Homo sapiens: one gene and its partners. The protein of the gene in region 4 purifies or fractionates together with the protein of the main gene of each other region. This does not show direct contact. Each region holds a gene or a part of one and is shown on either strand. Other genes may lie near its edges.

Region 1 (4,159 bases), on a different chromosome or scaffold from region 4:
CCAAAAATACAAAACTTAGCCAGGCATGGTGGTGTGCGCCTGTAATCCCAGCTACATGGGAGGCTGAGGCAGGAGAATCACTTGAAACCAGGAGGCGGAGGTTGCAGTGAGCCAAGATCGCACCACTGCCCTCCAGCCTGGACAACAAGAGCGAAACTCCATCTCAAAAAGAAAAAAAAAAAGACGAAACTTGGCCAGGCACGGTGGCTCACGCCTGTAATCCCAGCACTTTGGGAGGCCAAGGCGGGCAGATCACGAGGTCAGGAGATCAAGACCATCCTGGCTAACACGGTGAAACCCCGTCTCTACCAAAAATACAAAAAAATGGCCGGGCGCGGTGGCTCACGCCTGTAATCCCAGCACTTTGGGAGGCCGAGGCGGGTGGATCATGAGGTCAGGAGATCGAGACCATCCTGGCTAACAAGGTGAAACCCCGTCTCTACTAAAAATACAAAAAATTAGCCGGGCGCGGTGGCGGGCGCCTGTAGTCCCAGCTACTCGGGAGGCTGAGGCAGGAGAATGGCGTGAACCCGGGAAGCGGAGCTTGCAGTGAGCCGAGATTGCGCCACTGCAGTCCGCAGTCCGGCCTGGGCGACAGAGCGAGACTCCGTCTCAAAAAAAAAAAAAAAATACAAAAAAATTAGCCAGGCATGGTGGTGGGCGCCTGTAGTCCCAGCTACTCGGGAGGCTGAGGCAGGAGAATGGCATGAACCCGGGAGGCGGAGCTTGCAGTGAGCCGAGATCACGCCACTGCACTCCAGCCTGGGCAACAGAGTGAGACTCTGCCTCAAAAAAAAAAAAAAAAAAAAAAAAGAGGAAACTTAAGTACAGCACAAAGAGGTTAAATAACTTGCACTAGGTCACACAGTTAATGGGTGGTACACTCAAGACTCAAAGCCCAGCAACCTGGCTTGATGTCCATGCTCTTAACCACTAACTAGACTGCCTGTATAAGGATGTAGTGCCTGTTAAAACATTAAGGAAAATCGATTAAAAAATTAATAAACAATAGTACAAGCAGTACTTAGCTATATAGAAATCAAGAAAACAGTCATAGATGACATTGCTTTATGATCAACTAAATGAATCTATTAAGGTAGAGTCCTTCTGTTGCTAAAAATTGTCACTACTCTATCAGAAAAAAACACTGATAAACGATGTTGCTAATGTGCCTTATTTTGAAATACAAAAGAATCCCTAAACTGACGCTACAAGTGACAGAAGTCCTAGGATTCTGAAAACGTTGATAAGGGGGCCAACAGAGAGCCCTTTCCCTGGAGCTGCCTTCTCCATTTAAAGAGCAGGGGTGGCTGGGCACGGTGGCTCATGTCTATAATGCCAATACTTTGGGAGACCAAAGCAGGAGGCTCGCTTGAGTTCAGGAATTCAAGACCTGCATGTACAAAACAGCAAGACCCCATTTCTATTTCTTTAAAAAAAAGAAAGAGCAAGGGTTCCAGGGTTCTACGCTGCATCCTTTCCATTTCCATTCCTCACATATCTTGCTTCCATTAAGGAACACAGGAGGATCGTGTCAATCGTAGGAAGCAAGAGTGCAATCACTGAGAAACCTGCAAGAACCTGGGCTACCAGGAGGAAAAGTATTTCCCCTACACATGCTTTTGTATGAGAAGCCTATATCCACTGGCTTCAAATATCCTGGCCTCCGGATTTCTCCCACGGGAAAAATGCTCACATCTACTGAGATAAGAAAAAAATGTTCTGGGACCTGGCACCTTACAACTAACGCCTCCACGAGCACTGGACCCATACCTTTCCCTGCCACCTCATCTTCTTTCAACTGAGACTTAAAACATATGAAAGATAAAAACTCCATTGAAACTAGACCAACCATGGAATTAAACATAGTGGGAAACGGGTCCTAAAGAGATAAAGTGCCTGGAACCATGATCTCCTTATTATCAATACCCTTTTTTCCTCTAGACCCAAGATCTTAAAATGAGCAAATTAGAAACAGACACAAGCGGGTCTAACTGTATTTGATGGCTGAGGGAAGAGCAGGCGAAAATCTTAAAAAATACTATCTCCTGATTGCTTATGGCCCACTCCCTCCAACCCTGTCTGCAGGTGGGTCATAGTCCAAAGACCCTATTTCCAACCCTGAGGTCCCACTGCAGGCAGTACTATGGCCTCACGGGAAGGAAGATGTATCCAGAAGAGAATGAGGTATACAACCATTGATAGGTTCCTGGGATAAAAAGTTTGCTTTGTCGACACCAGCGTGGCCAATATGGTGAAACCCCATTTCTACTAAAAATACAAAAAGTAACCGGGCGTGGTGGCGGGCGCCTGTAGTCCCAGCTACTCGGGACTACAGGAGAATCGCTTGAACCCAAGAGGCGGAGTGTTGCAGTGAGCCAAGATCGCTCCACTGCACTCCAGTCTGGCGACAGAGCGAGACCCCGTCTTAAAAAAAACAAAACAAAACAAAAAAAAAACCTTTGCTTTCCCGCCTTCCAAGAGGAAGGGGCGCATCTCTGAGGAAACAAGCCCGGGGAACCCGCAGCCCGGACGGCATCCTCTCATCTACACAACCCGAGGACATCTCCCTCAGCTCCCAGAGGACGGCGGACCATGGTCAAGGTCCTCTTTCCGGCCTTTCACAACTCCAAGCCCCGCCCCACAAAACCCCCTGCAGTCCTACCAAGTCACTCCCATGGCGTCGGGCCAGGAAGGTGGCAGAATCACACAGTAGAAACGCAGGGTTCCCTGTCCGCCCACAGAAACTCCTTCAGTTCCCCAACACAACCTTCTGTCTCAGAAGGGACTCCGGAAATACGTAAAAACAGAGCGCCGGGTCCACGCCTTCCCCAAGGAATGGGGCGTGTCTCGGCACCCCTCGGTGACGCCTCCACTGACATCATCTGCGGATTCCCGCCCCGAGGTTTCTAAATCCAGACATTCCCGTTTGGCTGAGCACTCTAGGCCTACATCCATGAAGCTAGGAGAGCGACACTCAAAGACTGCACTATTGAGAGAAGCTAACGTTAAAGGCAGTGAATATATTCGGGAGTCCAGCTCCGGAACCCGGGAGCTCTTTTAGTGGGAGGGGCGGCGCTGATGGCGCTTCTGGCCTCCGAATGCTAGGGGGCGCTGTGATCGCCGGGCGGCCTCTTGGGCGCTGGGAGTCCACCGCGCAAGCGCATCCTGGCCTTTCTTCAGTCCCCACGTGCGATCCTTCCCGGCAACTTTTTCGAGAAAAATGCCCAAATTCAAGGCGGCCCGTGGGGTGGGGGGTCAGGAAAAACATGCGCCCCTGGCCGATCAGATCCTGGCTGGGAATGCGGTGCGGGCGGGGGTCCGGGAGAAGCGGCGGGGTCGCGGGACAGGAGAAGCGGAGGAAGAGTATGTGGGGCCCCGGCTGAGCCGACGGATTTTGCAGCAAGCACGGCAGCAACAGGAGGAACTCGAGGCCGAGCATGGGACTGGGGACAAGCCCGCGGCGCCGCGGGAACGCACCACGCGGCTGGGTGAGTGTCTGGGATGAGGTCCGAGGAAGACAGTGGCCAGTAGTGGGGCGGGGTGGGCAGCTAAAAAGTGTCTGGCAGGGGAATTGCTTCGAGTCAACAAAGGGGTCCGTATTACACTTGCAAAGGAGACTGAACCCTGTCTAGAGCCCTCCGCGTCCACTCCTAGTTTTAGGCACTCCCTTCTAGACACCCCCGAAGTTAGGCCAACAGTAATCGATCGCGCCACTAAGTGCTCCTAGCATGTATCCATTGGTTTTGTAAATATTTATGGGATACCCACTACGAGCTTTGCGCTATGCTCGGAATTCTATCGAATGTTTGGGTACAGAAGTAAACAACACAGGCACGTCTAACTTAAGGACCTTACAGTCAAGCCCAGCAGAGAGGCAATTAAGTAGACTCTTAGAATAATATATTTCCATGATAAAGTATCGTTTCCCTGGTAACAATAGCATTGGTCTTGAGAAGCTTCTCCGATTGCAGCAGGACCTTTAAGCTGAGAACTGAAAAACGAATGGGAAGTGTTATGAGCAGAAAACACATTGTTTAGCAGCCAAAGAGCGAGAGAGATGAATTGAAAGACGTCTGATGTTTTCTCACTAGGGAGGGAGTGTTGACCTCTGAGGTGCTTCATCCGTTTCTCAGATCTCATCTAAAGCAATATTTGA
Region 2 (3,500 bases), on a different chromosome or scaffold from region 4:
GGCTTAGAGACCCAGTAAAGGGGACGGGGCCCACACAGGGACGAGGGTCGGTCCGCCACGTGCCCGGGGAGCCTGAGGTGCAGGGAAGGTGCTTGTGACGCTCCCATTTGAGGCTGGACAGAAGCAGGTACATGGGGACTTCCACACCACCTCTGCCCAGACACCCGGCCTGGAGGTGCCGGGACCTCTGAACGACAAGATTCTGGTGGCAAAAGCTGCCCTCGGTGGTGGGTGGGGGACCTGGGTCTGGGTGGGGGTGGGCCGGCTTATTCTGCTCTCATTAAATATCTGAAATTTTCCCAGTTTACAAGCCTCTGACGTAACCGTCCTCTCTTTCCATCAAGTCTTTTCCTGAAACCCAAACCCTCGTGTGTGACTCATTAGGAGGCCCCTCCCACAGTGAGCACGAGGAAGAAAATGCTGGAGGTCCTAGAGCCAAGCCAGGGCGCCTTCCCGGAGGTCCCGGAGCCAAGCCGGGGGTGCCTTCCCTGGAGGTCCTGGAGCCGAGCCGGGGCCTTCCCCGGAGCAGGGCTGCTGGAGGTTCACTTCATTTTCTTCCTTTTGCTCATCTGTGTTTTCTAAAATTCCAGCCCTGAGCAATCAGTGGCTCAGAGGGTTTGCATGTGCTCCTTGTCAAACGTGTGTCTGAAACAGGCTGGGGGTCTGACGGGCCTGGGTTCAAATCCTGACTCGGCCACTTCCTGACCGCGTGACCCCAGATGAGTGGGGTGACAAGGTCCCACCCTTTCCAGGCTGGGTTTCCTCACCGTGAAATGGGGTGACAAGGTCCCACCTCACAGGGCTGCTGGGCAGCCAGGGTCAGCTCAGCACACTTGGGTTGCCCAAACCCCGCACATTCCAGAGAAAGGCCAGCCCCGGGCCCTGCAAGGTGACCTCTTGCCCCCGGGAGATCCTCCTGATGAGGTGTCTGCTCAGCAGGGCCCTGGGCCATATGCTAAGGCGTCTCTCTCCATCCACAGAGGGATCTACGGCGAGGCCTGACATCCAGGGGGGCCAGAGACTAAGGGCAGAGGCTAAGGCAGGGCGCCCTGTACAGCGAGGCCAACACACAATCAGGAAACACCAAGGCAAGGCCGGGGCGGTGGCTCACACCTGTAATCCCAGCACTTTGGGAGGGCGAGGCAGGTGGATCACCTGAGGTCAGGAGTTCAAGACCAGCCTGGCCAACATTGCAAAACCGCCTCTATACCAAAAATACAAAAAATACCTAGGTGTGGTGGCTCATGCCTGTAATCCCAGCTACTGGGAAGGCTGAGGTAGGAGAATCATTTGAACCCGAGAGGCAGACGTTGCAGTGGGCCAAGACGGCACTACTGCACTCCAGCCTGGGCAACAGAGTGAGACCCTGTCGGGGAGACAAAAAAAAAAAAAAAAAGGGAGAGGGTGAATGGAAGGGCTGGGTGCCCGTGTTGGGGGTGGTTCGTGACACAGCAGAAGACACCACTAGGGGATGGAGTTAGGGGCACCTAGAAGGAAGCAGCAGTCATGGCCATGACTGGAGAACATGGAGGGAAGGAGCCGTATGGATTCGGGGGGGTCCTGGGGCAGGACATGGAGGGAGGGAGCCGTGTGGATTCGGGGGGACCCGGGGCAGGACATGGAGGGAGGGAGCCGTGTGGATTCGGGGGGTCCCGGGGCAGGACATGGAGGGAGGGAGCCGTGTGGATTCGGGGGGTCCCGGGCAGGACATGGAGGCGGGGAGCCGTGTGGATTCGGGGGGACCTGGGGCAGGACATGCAGGGAGGGAGCCGTGTGGATTCGGGGGTCCCGGGGCAGGACACGGAGGAAGGAGTCCTGTGTTTGGGGACCAATGCAGGGACACACGCACCTGGCGAGGCCGTCGAGCTGCAGGGTGGCAGCACTGCCAGGCAGCGTGGGCGCCCGGCCAAACTGCAGACGAAGGGGCTGCTTGGGCTGCAGGCGGCTAACCAGGCCGTCGCTGGCTGGCAGCCAGTCCAGGCTGGGGATAAGCAGCTGGCTGGGCAGCAGGCAGCATTCATCCACCAGCGCCTCGTCCGGCTCGCTCGCTGGGCCCTCATCGCGACCTGCGGAGAGAGGTGGCGGAAGTCTCAGCACCCCTGACTGGGGCACCGCCCGGCCACCCGGGACGTGCTGGGAGCCCCTCCAGTTCAGGAGCACCAGGTCAGGGCCCCAGCTCTGTCTGCCTGGCTGGGTGACCCCGGGGTTCTCTCACCAGGTCGGGGCCCCGGCTCTGCCTGCCTGGCTGGGTGACCCCAGAGTTCTCTCCCCGTCTCTGGCCTGTCATGAGACTCCCTCATTCACTTAAAAAGTATGTGGGAAGCACTGTGCCTTTTCCAGACACTGGGATGTAAGAATGACACAGCTCACCCTCCTCACATACACACAACCCGACAAGGAGAGACAGCAAACAGGTGCCTGGAAGTGGCTGCCATCCCAAAAGCACCCACACAGAGCATGGACCTGTGCTAGGAACTGGGGAAATAGCAGATATCAAGGCAGAGCCACTGCCACCTGCAGGGGCTTATGTTCTGGCGGGGGGCTCAGGCAGGACTTGTGTTTTGGTAGGGAGAGGGGAGCGGGGAGAGGGGAGAGGGGAGAGCGGGGAGAAGGGAGAGCGGGGAGAGGGGAGAGCGGGGAGAGGGGAGAGCGGGGAGAGGGGAGAGCGGGGAGCGGGGAGCGGGGAGAGGGGAGAGCGGGGAGCGGGGAGAGGGGAGGGGCGGGCGGGGGTGCCTCACAGCAGATCCAGAGCTTGGTGAGCAGGCGGAAGAGCAGGGACATGCTGTCCTGGGTATCCGAGGTGGCCGTATACACGGGCAGGCAGCTGGGCTTCAGAAGGCCCCAGATGCGGATGACCACCATCAATTCCCGAAGCATGCCCAGCGAGGTGCCGTCCCGCAGAAAGCTGTGGCCCGGCCTCAGCAGGGAACCCTGCCCGAAAGAGGCATCGGTGTGGCTGGGGCGGCGGGGGGCAGATGGCGATGGGATGAAGTGTCTTGGGGTCGGTGGAACCCCGACCGGGGGGCAATGGGCAGGGTCTGGGACATTTGTGGTGGTCAGGACTGGGGTGCTTCTGGCACCGAGTGGGTGGATGCCGGGGACGCTGCTCAGAGCCCTGCAGGGCCCAGGACAGCCCCATTTGCAGAGTCGTCCCATCCCTGAGAGTCCACAAGACTAAGACGAGGCTCTGGCTGAGGCCAATATCCCCACCTGCACGTGGAGGAGCAGCCGCCCCCTCCTACAGCTGCGGGCCCGGGCCCCTGGTGACTGTACTGGGAGCTGAGAGGACCAGGGAAGGGAGGCCCCAGGGGTGGCCCCTGGCAGCCTAAAGCCCCACAAAAAGAAGAGAGGGACTTCAAACCGTCCGTGATGGGCGCGGTGGAGAAGGGCGGGCCCCAGGGCAGGATGAAGCCGGGTGGGTGGGGCAGAAGAAATCACAGCTGGGGCAGGACAGAGTGTACCGGCGGGGGGGTGGGGGCGAGGTTGGAGCCCTGGTCAGG
Region 3 (3,500 bases), about 22 Mb from region 4:
AATTAATTTGTATACTACCCATGAGTAAAAAATATTCTCTTTAGATCTTATTGTTCAGTAGAAAAAAATTATTCAACTAAAGTCAGAAGACCTAGGTTCTGGTTCCACTCACCATTAACCTCTACCTCATCCGTCCACCCTGGAGCTTATTCTCACAGGAGGTTGAACTGAACATCGTTAAGATCCTTTCTAATTCTAAAATTCTATATAAAATTATAAATATCCAAATAAAATGGTGGCTAGAAAATTTTCAAATGGGCACATCCCTCTCTAATAGTAACAGTTTCAATGAAAATTACATAGGAATCCACAGTACTAAGACACAATTCACAAATTGCTACTCTTTAAAAAGTGCAAGAAAGATCAGTGCTGATTATAGGTCTTAATTATCACCTTCTGAATAATCTGTGTGCCTGGCTCATAGCAAGCATTTAATAAGTGTCTATCAAATAAAGTCAAGCCTTGCATTTTACTTCTTGCATACTTTGTATAAATTCCTATTTAATCCCACGGGTATTAACAGAGTACCTGAGAGACTAGTAGTCTTCTATTAACATATTTATCTCTAGCCTCTTTCTTTTTTGAAAAAAAACAAAACAAAAACCTTACTACCCCTAAGGTTAGCTGTTTCTCCTAGCTTGTGGCCTCATCTGGATCCCCTCCTCCCCTTTTGAGGCTCACTGACACTTTTCTATTGAGTCCGTCAGATTTCCCTGCCCTCAAAACGTAAGACAGAACTAAGGTAATGATGCAGACAAAAGATTTATTACTGTCTCCTCTTCTCCTTTACATCATCTTTAGAAAGGTTAATCCTCTCCATTCATTTTCTCTTAAACATTTTTTTTGGCCAGCTATGGTGGCTCATGCCTATAGTCCCAGCACTTTGGTAGGCCAAGGTGGGGAGGATCCCTTGAGGACAGGAGTTCAAGACAGTTCAAGACTGACCTGGGCTACACAGTGAGACTATGTCTCTACCAAAAAAAAAAATTTCTTTTAAATTAGCAAGGCATTATAGCGCATGCCTATAGTCCCAGATACTGGTGAGGATAAGTGGGAGATCGCTTCAGTCCAGCAGGTTGAGGCTGCAGTGAGCAGTCATCATGCCACTGCACTCTAGCCTGGGCTACAGAGCGAGAACTTGTCTCAAAAAAGAAAAAACTGTGCCAAAAACATAATATAAAATTTATCCTCTTACCTCTAAAAAAATTCTGAATCAGGAAAAAAAGTCTGTTCACCCACCATGGAAAATTAGAAAGCACCGAAAAGTGAGCAAATAAAAACTGCCCGTACTTTCACCCCTATAAGGCAATGTCTAATAAGAGTTGTATGCTCTTTTATTTCCCTGCATGTTCAAGTTGCATTAGGGAACTATACTTACAATACACGGTAAGTTTTTGAGCATTAACTTTTGATTCTAAATATTGTTGTAATCTCCATACAACAAGCCTTTCTTGGTTAATTCAAAGGACAAAAATAAATAAACATGTAAGTGTGACTAGAATTGTAAGAGAAAATAACAAAATACTGCTAAACCCTCAGGCAACTATTCTTCTTAAGCGCACTGTTATCTTAAGTAAATGATACAAAGAAAATACCAATATTAAAGTTTTAATTAATAACTTAAAAGGATCCAACATTCCTGTTCCCACACAAAGTAAATATAAAGAGGAAACTTGCAGAAATCAAGTTTTTTTCTTTTAATTAAAAAACAAAGAGAAATTAACTAATTTAAAAAGAAGCCACTTACCTGGTTTTCCTCTCCAGCCTGTAACAACTTTTGGTTTCTTGAAATTGCCAGCATTTCTATAAGTTCCCTAAAAAAAAAAAACCAACAACAACAAAAACCCTTTCACAGCATACTGAACACTCAGGGCTACTCCCTACAGTCCGCTATTGACTGTGAACTACAGCTCACCAAGACTCGCTTGTGCCGGTTACCAAACTTATTTATAAAAGTTCTACTTAATACTATCATTATATAAATAGCTATCACCTAAATGCCAATGAAAGACTATTGTGAATAGAGAGAGTTCTTTCTATAAAAACCTAAGCCTAATGCTTGGAAAGACTCTACAGAGGCTTGCAAAGGACAGCTATAAAGAAAGGACCAGGGAAAAGTCATAAAAACTAAGGGTCTGCCCTAAGACTGCTTGATAAGAGGATAAGTTCTCATTTTGATTTGATCTAGAAATCAAACTACAAATTGCAGACAATGCATTATGAGCGATTTATGCAAGAAAAACTCATACATCAGGGGTCTACAGGCCAAATCCAGCACTTCTGCAGTTTTTGTAAATAACATTTTCCTAAGACAGTCTGCCCATTAATATACAAATTGTCTATGGCAGTTTTCCCTAAATACAGAGGCAGAGTTGAGTTGTTACAGCAGAGACTATATGGCCCATAAACCCAAAAGTATTTATTATCTGGCCTTTGCAGAAAAAGTTTTCTGACTCCTGTCTTACATAACATGATTAGTGAATGAACATATGTTTATATATTTTAAGGTAAAATAAAACAATTAAGGGATGCATGGACCATTTTTTAATGATTCTCCACTTTATTTGAATTTTTTAAATTAAACATCAACTAAGAGGGATCCTTACACATAATAAAATGATATCCTTTTAGAATGCTCATTTAATAAATATGACAATTTCCCTGTATGAAAATTAGTATCTGATGAGCAAAATAAGATTGGGAAAAATGTATAGCAGGTAATGTTTATATATTAGTTTCAAACTTGTTGATAGATGGGACTTTTGAGAAATTATGCAGAAGGGGCAGCTTCACAACTAGCTACCTGACACTGCTCTGATCAGCCTGAGCATTTGTACTTTCTCACTGGCTACCAGGCTATTTTTACCTTCAAATTTCCACCTTCCTTCCAGCTAGCATCATATCATTTTTCTGGATCATGTCAATTAGACCCAACCCTTCCCACTACTACTTCCCCATACCATTATTTATGAATTAATCAATGAATGAAAAAAGTAGATATAAGAATGCAAAGTCTTCATTTATTCACTAATTCATCAAATATTTATTGAGTGCCTATCATGTGCCAGGCACTTTCTAGATACTTGGGGTATCAAAGTGAACAATGGCACTTAAATTCTAATACAAGAGACAAGAAGAACTAAGAGAAGAAATAAACCTAGAGTGATAAGGGTTGGGAAGGAAATAAAGCAATGTTTTATTAGAGACTACTGGGGGAGTGGGTTGGCTACTTCAATAGGGTGGTCAGAGAAGGTCTTCCTAAGGGCACAGCTTTGACATAAGACACGGATTAAATGAGAGAAGTCAGCCAAGATGTCTGGAAGGAAAGAGCACAGTAGAAGACACAGACAGTTCAGTGCCCCAAAGATGGAGCTGAGGAGGTGTAGCCAGGGCCTGGCACAATGGGGAGAGGAAAGCAAAGTGAGGATGTAGCAGCCAGGTGGCTAGGGGTGAGATTACGTAGGGCCTTATAGTTATGGTAAAGATTAGTGTTTCATTCT
Region 4 (3,500 bases):
CTGGAACAGCACATTGAAGGCCAGAGACTAAATCCACTAAATTTGTGAAGAACATCTTTGCGAGAGACCAGATGGGCTCCGCCTCATAGCCTACAGGATATTTCCTTTGTATACAGGTGATTAGAGACAAAATAATCACTTTTAGCATTGTGTTTATATTTGTTTGAAATGAAGGTGCCTTTATAAACCTTATTATATAGTTACTATCTTTACAAAGAAAAGAACTATAAAAGCAATGTAATTATGTAGTAAGAAAGGGCAATTTGAAGTTTAGGTAATTTAAATCCATGAAAATTTAATGAATAATAATATGCTAGACCAGCAGTCCCCAACCTTTTTGGCATCAGGGACCAGTTTCATGGAAGAAGTTTTTCCACGGAGCGGGGTGGGAGGGGATGGTTTCAGTATGAAACTGTACCACCTCAGATCATAAGGCATTAGCTAGATTCTCATAAGGAGCGTGCAATCTAGATCCCCCGCATGTGCAGTTCACAATAGGGTTCTGGCTCCTATGAGAATCTAATGCTGCCACTGATCTGACAGGAGGCGGAGCTCAGGTGGTAATGCTCACCCACCGCTCACCTCCTGCTGTGTGGCCTGGTCCCTAATGAGCCATGGACTGGTCTGTGGCCTGGGGGTTGGGGACCCCTGTGCAAGATGGGTGAAAAAAGGCATAAATGACTTTGCAACGTAAAATTAAAAAGTCAGTTTCTTAAGTTTTTAAATTCTCAAAAGTTCAATGCACCTGAACACAGCAAGGCTTCTAATAATATACTTCAATTATGATTAATAAAGGTGATTGGCCAACAGACTGCTAATATAGAGGGGCTTAAAATATAAGCATATTGAATTAACATTTTCCTTTTCTAATATGTAAATTAGTATGCAGTAGGCTCCCAAAATTTTATTTTCAAGTTATTATAAATATATAAATTTCTACAGTTGGCCTTGTATCTAATAATCAATTTAAAGCAAGCCAATGCTTTATTTATGAACTTAAAAGGAAACAGAAGCTTAGGAACACAAATGTCTCTTCTTTCACTTTGAAATAAATACCATCTAGTGTATGTCAGAGAAGCAGGAGGCATTATATAAAAACACTACTAGGCCATGTTTTGAGAAGGTAGCATTCTCACTACTTCTATAAGGTTTGCAGGCCTACATATAGCACTGGTATCTACAGACGACTAGAAAAGTATCCAACTGTAATGCATCTTTCTAGTTTAAACCAATTACAGGTCAACTTACCAAATCTCTGTGCAACACCCAGTTAGCATGCAGGTAGTGAATACCATCTAGGATCTGATATAATAGTGACTTCACCATTCCCCGAGGTAACTGAACTGGCTTCTTGTTTGCTTTAGAAGCTCTGTGAAACTTGATTATATGCTGAAAGAAAGAAAAAAATATCAACAGAAGCTTAAAAAAAGGAAAAGATAATTTGATGTATAATATTTTCCTAACAGAAAAAGAAACACTCAGGGATTCCCATAGATATTGAAAATATAATTTCGTACTCTGCTGAATAACATAAACAACTTTAAAATTCCCTAATAACTGGGGCTAAAATTCCATTTCCTACCCATATGACAGCATTTCAGGAGATAAATTATCACAATAGGGAATCAGAAAATATTGTGCTTTTATTTTTAAAGCATAATTAAAAATCAATTACTTTCAGAGTATACTTGATTCCTGTTTATCTGGTAGATAAAATGAAAAAAAAAAAAGAACAAAATTCAAGAGATACTTCTGGCTGGTTGACATAGCATAGAATTAGAACCTATTTATGACACAGGTTATAAAGAAAGCAAGTGGGGAGATGCTTCAATAAAATACACACAAGCACAAAGAAATGATATACCAGTTCACAATGGAAAAATGTAAAAATGGGAAAGATTCTGAGGAAAATAAAAACTGCCTTGTACCATCCATCAAAGCTTTCTATGTATAATGTTGTTAGACATCCAGTAAAACAAAGCACAACTTTATACATAGAAAAATTACTTTATGAATAAATGTGCCTTACAAGTTTTTTCTTGAAAAGTTTCAAATGCTCTTGATAGGACTCATTTTCTTAATTAGATCACTCTTAAATTGCAGGAAAATCTATAACTCGGCTGCAGTAAACTATGCCTTGCACACCACTGTACATATCCCTGAACCTAATATTGCACAGAGCAGACCCTTGGCCAATACATGTAAGTAAATATTAAGCATGTTCTTGAAATTAGTAGACATAATAAAAATAAGAGATATTTAACATTATAAGTTAACATTTTCACTTGCTATTTTCTTATGATATACAGAATATGACACAAGTAAGGAATAACTAATGATTAATGAATAAAGGAGCTTTACTCTCCAAGGTAAAAATATATAGCAAATATCTACGAGAAGGTAAAGTGTAGCAGTTTGCACATATGTAGTATGACTAATCTAAATTAGCAGCATTAATCTACTTTAATTTTCTTCTCAGTCTTTTTTTCAAAGTATTTAATAGCAGGCAAACAAAACAGAGCTACAACAATTTAATAATCTAGGCTGTTTTGTCACCTGTCCTAAAATATGATGTGACAATCAAGTCTGTTCTCCTTAAGAAGAAGATTCTTGGGCCGGGCATGGTGGCTCACGCCTGTAATCCCAGAACTTTGGGAGGCTGAGGCGGGTGGATCACGAGGTCAGGAGATCAAGACCATCCTGGCTAACACGGTGAAACCCCGTCTCTACTAAAAAATACAAAAAATTAGCCGGGAGTGGTGGCAGGCACCTGTAGTCCCAGCTACTCGGGAGGCTGAGGTAGGAGAATGGCGTGAACCTGGAAGGCGGAGCTTGCAGTGAGTGGAGATCCTGCCACCGCTCTCCAGCCTGGGCGACAGAGCGAGACTCCATCTCAAAAACAAACAAACAAAAAAAACAAGAAGAAGATTCTTTGGCTCTCTCCAAGCTTAATAAAAACAGGTAAAATAAATATAAATAAAAATAAAATAGGTTAATTTTTTGAAAAAAAAAAAATTAAAACTCTGCCGCAGTAAGAATCAAAGGAACAAATATGTAGGAGAGGTAAGGTAATTAATCAATTTCATATATATTTCTTCATGTACACTTTCATTAGAGTATTACAAGTGACTTTTTTTACCAATGTTTTAAAATGACAAATCCTACTGTCATTTTCTTTATATTCCAGGGCTACATAACAAATGCAAAATATACATACCATGAAATCTCACCAACGCCTAAGTGATTTTTAAAAATAACTATTTTTATTGCGACTGCCTTGTTACCCTCTGCTGCCTAACCCCTACCAATTCACTTCAACATTCCAATTAAAATAGATAAAGGAGTGGGTTTTAGTAGGCTAAATTATCATTTGTTTTTTATGAAAATGAACATTAAAAATATTTATTTGGCTTAAATATTATTAAGATGATGATAAAGCTAATGAACTAGTTATATGCACTGTACAATATTACCCACAATAAAATTTGCTGAAGTATAAT
Region 5 (2,213 bases), on a different chromosome or scaffold from region 4:
TGTATAACGTTGTGAGAAAGTTATTTTCCTTTTCAATTTTTTTGGAATTTTCTTATTTAGCACTACAAAGTCTTTAGGCCTCTTCTAATGCTCATCTCCAGCAGGCCTGGGGCTTAGAGCCTTTAATCAGCGACAGTGTCTATCTAGAATGTAATAATACTGTTTTAGTTATGTATTTATTTATTTTTGTAGAGTTGGGGTCTTACTATGTTGCCCAGGGTGGTCTTGAACTCCTGGCCTTGGTCTCCCAAAGTGTTGGGATTACAGGCACAAGCCACCATGCCCAGCCAATAACACTATTTTGTTGTTATATATTTTAACAATTGCCTTCTATTTCCAACAAATCAAAGTCTTCCATTTATAGAAGAAATATAAAGTCTCCCCCGCTTTTTTTGAGACGGAGTCTAGCTCTGTCTTCAGGCTGGAGTGCAGTGGTGCGATCTCAGCTCACTGCAACCTCCACCTCCTGGGTTCAAGCGATTCTCCTGCCTCAGCCTCCTGAGTAACTGGGACTACAGGCGTGTGCCACCACGCCCAGCTAATTGTTGTATTTTTAGTAGAGACAGGGTTTCACCATGTTGGCCAGGATGGTCTCGATCTCTTGACCTCGTGATCCGCCTGCCTCAGCCTCCCAAAGTGCTGAGATTACAGGCATGGAGCCACTGCACCTGGCTAAAGTTTCCTTTTTATCAGGAAAAGTTTTCCTCTTCTGTATGTAAGTAGAAGAGAGTGAATTGCTTCATAGAATCTTCATCCTCTTGGCAACATCTGACATAATTGTTACAGTAGATTATACCCACTATGAAATCTATTCTTCCCTTGGCCTCTGAGACACAACTTTCTTGTCTTCACTTAACTTGCTGACCATTCCGTTTAAGTCTTCTTTGCTTGGTCTCTCTCATCTTCCCCAAACACTGGAGGACTAGGACTCAATCCTGGTCCTCTTCTGTATCAATACTCTTTTCCTGCCTAGGTGACTTTATTTGGTCCCATGGCTTTAAATATCATTTAGGCCCTGAGGACTCCCACGTTTTTATCTCTGAACTACAGATGAAAACATCCAACTTCCTACTCAGTTTCCTCACTTGGATGCCTAACAGACATCTTTATCTTAACATGTTCAATATCAAACTGTTGATTTTTTCCTCCAAAATCTTATTCACCCTACAGTCTTCAACATCACAGTAAATGGCAACTCTCTGTTTTTAGTTGGTTACCCAGGCCAAAAACCAGAAAATCATCTTTGACTCACACCCTCTTTCTTTCTCTCATACCCTCCATTGAATCCGTATTTTTGAAATAAATGCAGAATGCAATCACTTCTCACTCATCTGGTCACTTCAACCTAGTCCCTTCAAATGAAGTCACCCTCATTTCTTGCCTGGTCTTTGCAATCGCCTCTTTCTACCTTTGCCTTCTTCCTCTCTTCTCCATATGAAAGCCAAATGGTCTATTAAATTATTGGGCAGATAATAACACTCCTCTACTCAGGACACTACAGTGGCTTCCTGTGTCATTCAGAATAAAAGCCAACATCTTTACCGTTGTCAACAAGGCCCTACATATTATGGTCTCTGCTACCTGCCAAACATCATCTCCTTCTATTCCTCCCCTTGATCATTCTCTCCAGGAGTGACCTTCCTGCCACACCCCTTCTCCTATTCTCTGTGCTTAGGATGTTCTTCCCATCTGCATGTCTACTCTATCACTTTTGTCAGGTCTCTGCTCAAGTGACTTTATCATCAAGGCCTTTTCTGATCACCCTAATAAAATAGTATGTGTCCTACCAATCTCTAGCCACTTTCCTGCTTTATTTTTATGGCATAGTTTTGTTTTTTTTTTTTAGGTAGGGTCTCACTCTGTCTCCAGGCTATAGAGCAGTGGCGTGATTATAACTCTTTGCAGCCTCCATCCCCTGGGCTCAAGTGATCCTCCCGCCTCAGCCTCCCAAGTGGTTCAGACTACAGGTGCGCACCACCATGCCCAGCTAATTTTTTTTTTTAGTAGAGATGAGTTCTTGCTATGTTGTCCAGACTAATCCTGAATTCCCGAACTCAAGCAGTACTGCAGCCTTAGCCTCCCAAACAACTGGAATTACAGGCATAAGCCTGTAACAGCTGGCTTGACATACATTTTTTTAGTCATCTTTCTGCCTCCATGGCTATGGCTCAAATGTTAGGAACATATTCAGATACTTGTTTACAAAATCTGGC
Region 6 (3,500 bases), on a different chromosome or scaffold from region 4:
CATAAAGACAGGAAGCAGAATGGTGGCTGCCAGGGACTGGGGGAAGGCGGGAATGGGACATTACAGAATGTAAGCTTGGGAAGATGAGTGAAGTTTTACAGATGGACAGTGGTGATGATTATACAATAATATGAATGTACTTAACGCTACTGAACTATACACTTAGAAACAAAGAAAATGGTAAATTTTGTTACCTATATTTTACCACAATTAAAACAGAAAAAAAGGCCTCGTGCGGTGGCTGACGCCTGTAATCCTAACACTTTCGGAGACCGAGGCATGCGGATCACAAGGTCAGGGGTTCAAGACCAGCCTGACCAACGTGGTGAAACCCTGTCTCTAATAAAAATACAAAAATTAGCCAGGTGTGGTGGTGCGCGCCTATAATCCCACCCTCTCGGGAGGCTGAGGCAAGAGAATCTCTTGAACCCGGTGGGGGCGCAGTGGTTGCAGTGAGCAGAGATCGTGCCACTGCACTCCAGCCTGGGTGACACAGCGACACTCTGTCTCAAAGAAAAAGAAAACAAAAAAAGGTAAAGAAGATAATACTCAGCTGAGACTGGGCAAAGTGGCTCACGCCTGTAATCCCAACACTTTGGGAGGCCAAGGCAGGCAGATCACCTGAGGTCAGGAGTCCAAGACCACCCTGGCCAACATGGTGAAACCCCATCTCTACTAAAAATCCAAAAATTAGCTGAGCATGGTAATGGGCGCCTGTAATCCCAGTTACTCAGGAGGCTGAGGCAGAACAATCACTTGAATCCGGGAAACGGAGGTTGCAGTGAGCAGAGATCGTGCCACTGCACTCCAGCCTGGACGACAGAGTGAGACACTGTCTCCAGAAAAAAAAAAAAAAACCCTCAGCTGAATTAGGTTCATTTCTGGTGGATCACAGTAAAATCTGTTTTTACTTTCATTATTCCCCAAAAATAGAATTAGTCATTATAAGCATGAATAATCAAGCTCATGACTTATATTTTACATTTGCTTTCCTGGAAATTTGCTCCATAAACACCGTAAAAATCTTTTTAGAGTTAAAATGTCCATCTTCTGGACAGGCATGGTAGCTCACGCCTGTAATCCCAGCAATTTGGGAGGCCGAGGCGGGTGGATCACGAGGTCAGGAGATCTATACTATCCTGGCTAACACGGTGAAACCCCATCTCTACTAAAAATACAAAACATTAGCCAGGCGTGGTGGGACGCGCCTGTAGTCCCAGCTGCTTGGGAGGCTGAGCCAGGAGAATCGCTTGAACCCAGGAGGTGGAGGTTGCAGTGAGCCAAGATTGTGCCACTGCACTCCAGCCTGGGTGACAGAGTGAGACACCGTCTCGGAAAAAAAAAAAAAAAAAAAAAAACTTCGCGAGTTGCTGTGGCTCGCGCCTGTGATCCCAGAACTTTGGGAGGCCAAGGTGGGCAGATCACCTGAGGTCAAGAGATCGAGACCAGCCTGACCAACATGGAAAACCCTGTCTCTACTAAAAATATAAAATTACCCGGGCATGGTGGCACATGCCTGTAATCCCAGCTACTTGGGAGGCTGAGGCAGGAGAATCGCTTGAACCCAGGAGGCAGAGGTTGTGGTGAGCCGAGATTCCACCACTGCACTCCAGCCAGAGCAACAAGAGTGAAACTCCATCTCAAAAAAAAAAAAAAAAAAAAAAAAAGTCCATCTTCTTATCGAGATTAATCAGAAATAAATGTGAAGGGAAAAAAAACTTTTCCCAGGTATCTTTTTTTTTTTTTTTTTTTTTTTTGAGACAAGTCTTGCCCTGTTGCCCAGGCTGGAGTGTAATGGCGTGATTTTGGCTCACTGCAACCTCCGCCTCCCCAGGTCACACTGTTCTCCTGCCTCAGCCTCCCGAGAAGCTGGGATTATAGGTGCCCGCCACCACGTCCAGCTAATTTTTGTATTTTTAGTAGAGACAGGGTTTCACCATGTTGGCCAGGCTGGTCTCAAACTCCTGACCTTGTGATCCGCCCACCTCAGCCTCCCAAAGTGCTGGGATTACAGGAGCGAGCCACCGCACCCAGCCTCCCCAGGTATCTTATATTACCCTTCATCATTTATCTTTTAAATCTCTATCAGCCTCCAAAACAGGATCAAAAATAAATGTTTCAAACTTTAGCAAAAAGATCATTCCAACTCCATAAATGAATGCAAGAGCAATATCTAATACATAAAGTTGACCTACCTCAATTTTTTACTTCTAGTTTAAGTATAAAATGGTCCTTCTTGAACTGGGGGTTTTGTGAAATCAGCATATTTCAAAAGTGTTCACAAACCTTTGAGAGCCTTCTGCAATGTCTCCAAACAGCTGACCAAATGTTGATGCCCTCCAGAACTCATCACAACCCTCTTCTCCTGTGTCAAGTGGGAAAACATTTGAGGTGAAAATTAACCAGGCCAACAGTGTTTTAGGTAAACATACACATTATCCTAGTAGTAATATTGCAGGACAGTCTATAGACTCAATATAGTCTATAGATTTTGTAGACTATATAGAGTAACACTGGTCTACAAGTGTTACTCTGTCCATCCATGCAAAATCCATATATATGAGTGTAGAAAAAGGTATTCCTCAGCCAGGCACGTGGCTCATGCCTGTAATTCTAGCACACTGAGAGGCCAAAGCTGAATAATCACTTGAGTCCAGGAGTTCGAGACCAGCCAAGGCAAGATAGAGAGATCCTGTTTCTATTTAGTCAAAAACAAAAAAGAAAACGTTGTATTTCCACATCTAAAACAAAAAAACCTTTAGAGAAATATTAGGAAGAATCAAAATGTAATACATGAGATCTGCCGCCTGTGGAAGTGACCACATGCTAAGATATAAACAGTTAAATAAGATGGCTCAGGAGATTTGGTAGTGTACAAATTTAACAAGGTGATTTGCATGTAATCTGAGAAACACAACCAAATTTTAAGAAAATGAGATTGACTCTAAAAAACAGAACATATAGGCTGGGTGCGGTGGCTCACACCTGTAATCCCAGCACTTTGGGAGGTCAAGGCGGGTGGATCACGAGGTCAAGAGACTGAGACCATCCTGGCCAAAATGGTGAAACCCCGTCTCTACTAAAAATACAAAAATTATCTGGGCGTGGTGGTGCACGCCTATAGTCCCAGCTACTCAGCAGGCTGAGGCAGGAGAATCACTTGAACCCAGGAGGCGGAGGTTGCAGTGAGCCGAGATCACACCACTGCACTCCAGCCTGGCGACAGAGAGAGACTCTGTCTCAAAAAAAAAAAGAAAAAGAAAAGAAACAGAACATGTAGTCCAGAAAAGGGACTTCCAAAGAACAAAAACTTAGCCTAGTTTGAGGCCGGTTGCAGTGGCTCACGCCTGTAATCCCAGCACTTTGGGAGGCCAAGGCGAGCAGATCATGAGGTCAGGAGTTCGAGACCAGCCTGGCCAACATAGTGAAACCCCATCTCTACTAAAAATACAAAAATTAGCCAGGTGTGGTGGTACGCGCCTGTAGTCCCAGCTACTCAG
Region 7 (2,808 bases), on a different chromosome or scaffold from region 4:
CATGTCTCCTCGATAAACAACATCCTCCAGACATGTAGCAGCTTCATGGTTTTCTTCTTCTAGCTTATACAAGCTAGCAGCCTTTATAAGACACAAATTTTAAAATCTTTAGAGTTTAGAAAGAGAAGCTGTCACAGATGTACTTATTTTTAAATCTGGATGACTTTGCAATCATTGTGATATGTTTTTCAGTAAAGAAATTCTAAAAATCAGACAACTTTTAAGAATTTTCCCCATGTGAATTATTAAAAAGAATGACTTTTCAATTAGAGATCTCTAGATATCTTTAAGTGACTCCCTTACACATTACGTTTAGACACCATTATTCTACTCCAATTGTAGAATGCCACCCTCCTCTCATTCTTCACTAGGAAAAGAGACAAAATTGAGGAAAATAAGAGGTTTCCTTATAATGGAAATTTGAATATTATAACAAAAGGTGCTATGATTTGAATGCATCCCCTCCAAAATTCATACATTAAAATCTAATCCCCAATGTGATGGTATTAAGAGGGAAGGGGCCTTTAAGAGGATATTAAGTCATGAAGGCAGAGATCTCATAGATGGAATTAGTACCCTTAAAATATGGCTTGAGGTTGAAGAGGGAGCTCTTGCTCTTTTGCCCTTCTGCCTTCAGCCATGTGAGGAAACAGGAAGAAGGCCCTCAACATGGCCCTAAACATGGCACCATGTTTAATAAAAATTCATTACTCATGCACAGTGAGTAATAAATGCCTTGATCTTGGACTTCCCAGACTCCAGAACTGTGAGAAAATAAATTTCTGTTCTTTATAAATTACTGTCTCAGGTATGTTGTTATAGCAGCACAAATGGACACAGACAAAAGGTACTAAATCTACCTCCTTTAATTCAAAATTCTCTATTACTGGTAAAATTCTCAAAGGAATAGAGGCTTACCTGTAAAGCAGCTGTAGATTCTTCACTGGGTAAGGAATCTATCAAAACATCAATGTCTTTTGCTGTTCGTGCAATCAGTGCTGCAAAAAGCTGGGCATACTCTAGAGAAAGATACTGCTAGATTAGGATATTAGAAAACCTCAAGTTTTCAGAAACAAATTTTAAGTTAATGAAACCAGAAACTTCATATAGCTTTTTCTGCCCTAAGATTCTAATGATTCGGCCAGGCGTGGTGGCTCACGCCTGTAATCCCAGCACTTTGGGAGGCCAAGGCAGGCGGATCACGAGGTCAGGAGTTTGAGACCAGCCTGACCAACATGGTGAAACCCCATCTCTACTAAAAATACAAAAATTAGCCAGACGTGGTGGCATGAGCCTGTAATCCCAGCTACTCAGGAGGCTGAGGCAGGAGAATTCCTTGAACCCGGGAGGCGAAAGTTGCAGTGAGCCAAGATTGCATCACTGCACTCCAGCCTAGGTGACAGAGCGAGACTCCGTCTCAAAAAAAAAAAGAAGATTCTAATGATTAAAATATACACCAATCCTGTTACACATTTAGCTCAAATTGGGAATTAAGCATAATGTATGTAATTTCATTTATTATGACAATATAGTGGTCACCTGAATAAAGAAATTTATAAATGGGATGCCTTCCTTGTTAAGGTCCCTCACTCAGCTAAATTAATACAAATTCTCCTCTAAAGGAGTAACAATCTATTATCTGACATGAACCAGAATTATGAGATGTTAGGTGAATTGACTGTAAATTTTTTACAACAAACAAAACTTGTAATATTCTCAAACAACAATAATTTTAGAAATAAAATAAGCTGAATTTCTCAAGAAATCTAATTTTAAAGGATTACAAAAAATGTGAGAGTCAAACTAAGAGAAGCTAAGAAAACCTGTTTACCTTCTGTAGGGTTAGCTGGCTGGTCTTTGTTAATTGCTGTCTGAATATTATTGAAAGAGGCAGGAGGACCACATTGCTGCAATACTCCAATGGCATTACAAAACTGATCTGCAAGCTTAGGCCAAAGAAAACATATCAAGGTTAGAAAGGACTTATCAGTTTTAAGGACTTTATTGGTAATGGCAACAACAATAAGTTTCTGTAATGATAATCTCTGAGCAAGGGAATAAAACAGAAAGGAGTGATTGTTGATAAAATAAGCCAGTTATTATTAATGTTGATTAAACGTTTTAATTCTGCAAAGAAACTAAGTTTGGTATCAATCTAGGTAAAGTTAAATTTGATATAAATCTAGTTGAAACAGTTGAAATACAAAATAATCTTTCTTTTCTTGTGATAGTAAAATGATAAGAGAATATTGGCCAATACTTATTGTAAGCCACAAGTAAAGACTTTTTGGGGATAGTGATGGAAAAGAGCAAATTTGACTTGTAAATATCTATGGCACCATGTTTAATAAAAATTTATTTCTCATGCACAAAGTATATGATTCCTTTTCTGAGACTGGAGTAGTTACAAGTGTAAAGAAATAGTGAGGAAGAGGCTGCTCAGAAAAGCACCTTAAGTAAGCAGAAATGTATTTGTTCAAGACTCAATTTGTAAACTCTTGTACTCTAAAAGTATTCCTTAAGTACTTTTAAAGATTGGGAATAGCAATTCCTTACCATCTCCAAATTAAATACACCTATCTTCCCTACCAATTTCTCTCACCTAGTCTTGACCTCTCAAACCTCCTATTTCTAATAAGTATTTCCACTGGGTTTCTCTGCCATTGTTTCAATGACAGAACTCAAAGGCAACTGTTTCCTCTTTTTAATATTTAATTTGTATTGAAAGTCTCCTAGTCAACCAATCTAACTTCAGATTCTTACTTTCCTTTGATCTTCATATTCTGCTAATACTACAAATCTTTCTCT

The links.
Region 1: the proteins of CDK8 (region 4) and MED20 purify together in Homo sapiens (affinity purification with mass spectrometry; 10 studies listed by BioGRID and IntAct, with this or other methods). This does not show direct contact.
Region 2: the proteins of CDK8 (region 4) and MED16 purify together in Homo sapiens (affinity purification with mass spectrometry; 12 studies listed by BioGRID and IntAct, with this or other methods). This does not show direct contact.
Region 3: the proteins of CDK8 (region 4) and MED4 purify together in Homo sapiens (affinity purification with mass spectrometry; 11 studies listed by BioGRID and IntAct, with this or other methods). This does not show direct contact.
Region 5: the proteins of CDK8 (region 4) and MED18 purify together in Homo sapiens (affinity purification with mass spectrometry; 6 studies listed by BioGRID and IntAct, with this or other methods). This does not show direct contact.
Region 6: the proteins of CDK8 (region 4) and MED1 purify together in Homo sapiens (affinity purification with mass spectrometry; 16 studies listed by BioGRID and IntAct, with this or other methods). This does not show direct contact.
Region 7: the proteins of CDK8 (region 4) and MED21 purify together in Homo sapiens (affinity purification with mass spectrometry; 15 studies listed by BioGRID and IntAct, with this or other methods). This does not show direct contact.

Annotation. Positions count from the first base shown.
Region 1 is NC_000006.12:41,918,340-41,922,498, forward strand, and holds the start of MED20 (mediator of RNA polymerase II transcription subunit 20), read right to left. Parts: upstream 2,801-4,159; 5' UTR 2,680-2,800; coding exon 2,666-2,679; intron 2,605-2,665; exon of another isoform or gene 2,461-2,604; intron 1-2,460. Other genes in the region: BYSL (bystin), read left to right, coding at 3,224-3,491. UniProt on the Homo sapiens protein: Component of the Mediator complex, a coactivator involved in the regulated transcription of nearly all RNA polymerase II-dependent genes.
Region 2 is NC_000019.10:869,188-872,687, forward strand, and holds part of MED16 (mediator of RNA polymerase II transcription subunit 16), read right to left. Parts: intron 2,932-3,500; coding exon 2,739-2,931; intron 2,067-2,738; coding exon 1,850-2,066; intron 1-1,849. UniProt on the Homo sapiens protein: Component of the Mediator complex, a coactivator involved in the regulated transcription of nearly all RNA polymerase II-dependent genes.
Region 3 is NC_000013.11:48,088,605-48,092,104, forward strand, and holds part of MED4 (mediator of RNA polymerase II transcription subunit 4), read right to left. Parts: intron 1,815-3,500; coding exon 1,748-1,814; intron 1-1,747. UniProt on the Homo sapiens protein: Component of the Mediator complex, a coactivator involved in the regulated transcription of nearly all RNA polymerase II-dependent genes.
Region 4 is NC_000013.11:26,351,629-26,355,128, reverse strand, and holds part of CDK8 (cyclin-dependent kinase 8), read right to left. Parts: intron 1,390-3,500; coding exon 1,249-1,389; intron 1-1,248.
Region 5 is NC_000001.11:28,332,040-28,334,252, reverse strand, and holds part of MED18 (mediator of RNA polymerase II transcription subunit 18), read right to left. Parts: intron 1-2,213. UniProt on the Homo sapiens protein: Component of the Mediator complex, a coactivator involved in the regulated transcription of nearly all RNA polymerase II-dependent genes.
Region 6 is NC_000017.11:39,441,264-39,444,763, forward strand, and holds part of MED1 (mediator of RNA polymerase II transcription subunit 1), read right to left. Parts: intron 2,366-3,500; coding exon 2,287-2,365; intron 1-2,286. UniProt on the Homo sapiens protein: Component of the Mediator complex, a coactivator involved in the regulated transcription of nearly all RNA polymerase II-dependent genes.
Region 7 is NC_000012.12:27,025,558-27,028,365, reverse strand, and holds part of MED21 (mediator of RNA polymerase II transcription subunit 21), read right to left. Parts: intron 1,947-2,808; coding exon 1,832-1,946; intron 1,020-1,831; coding exon 919-1,019; intron 82-918; coding exon 1-81. UniProt on the Homo sapiens protein: Component of the Mediator complex, a coactivator involved in the regulated transcription of nearly all RNA polymerase II-dependent genes.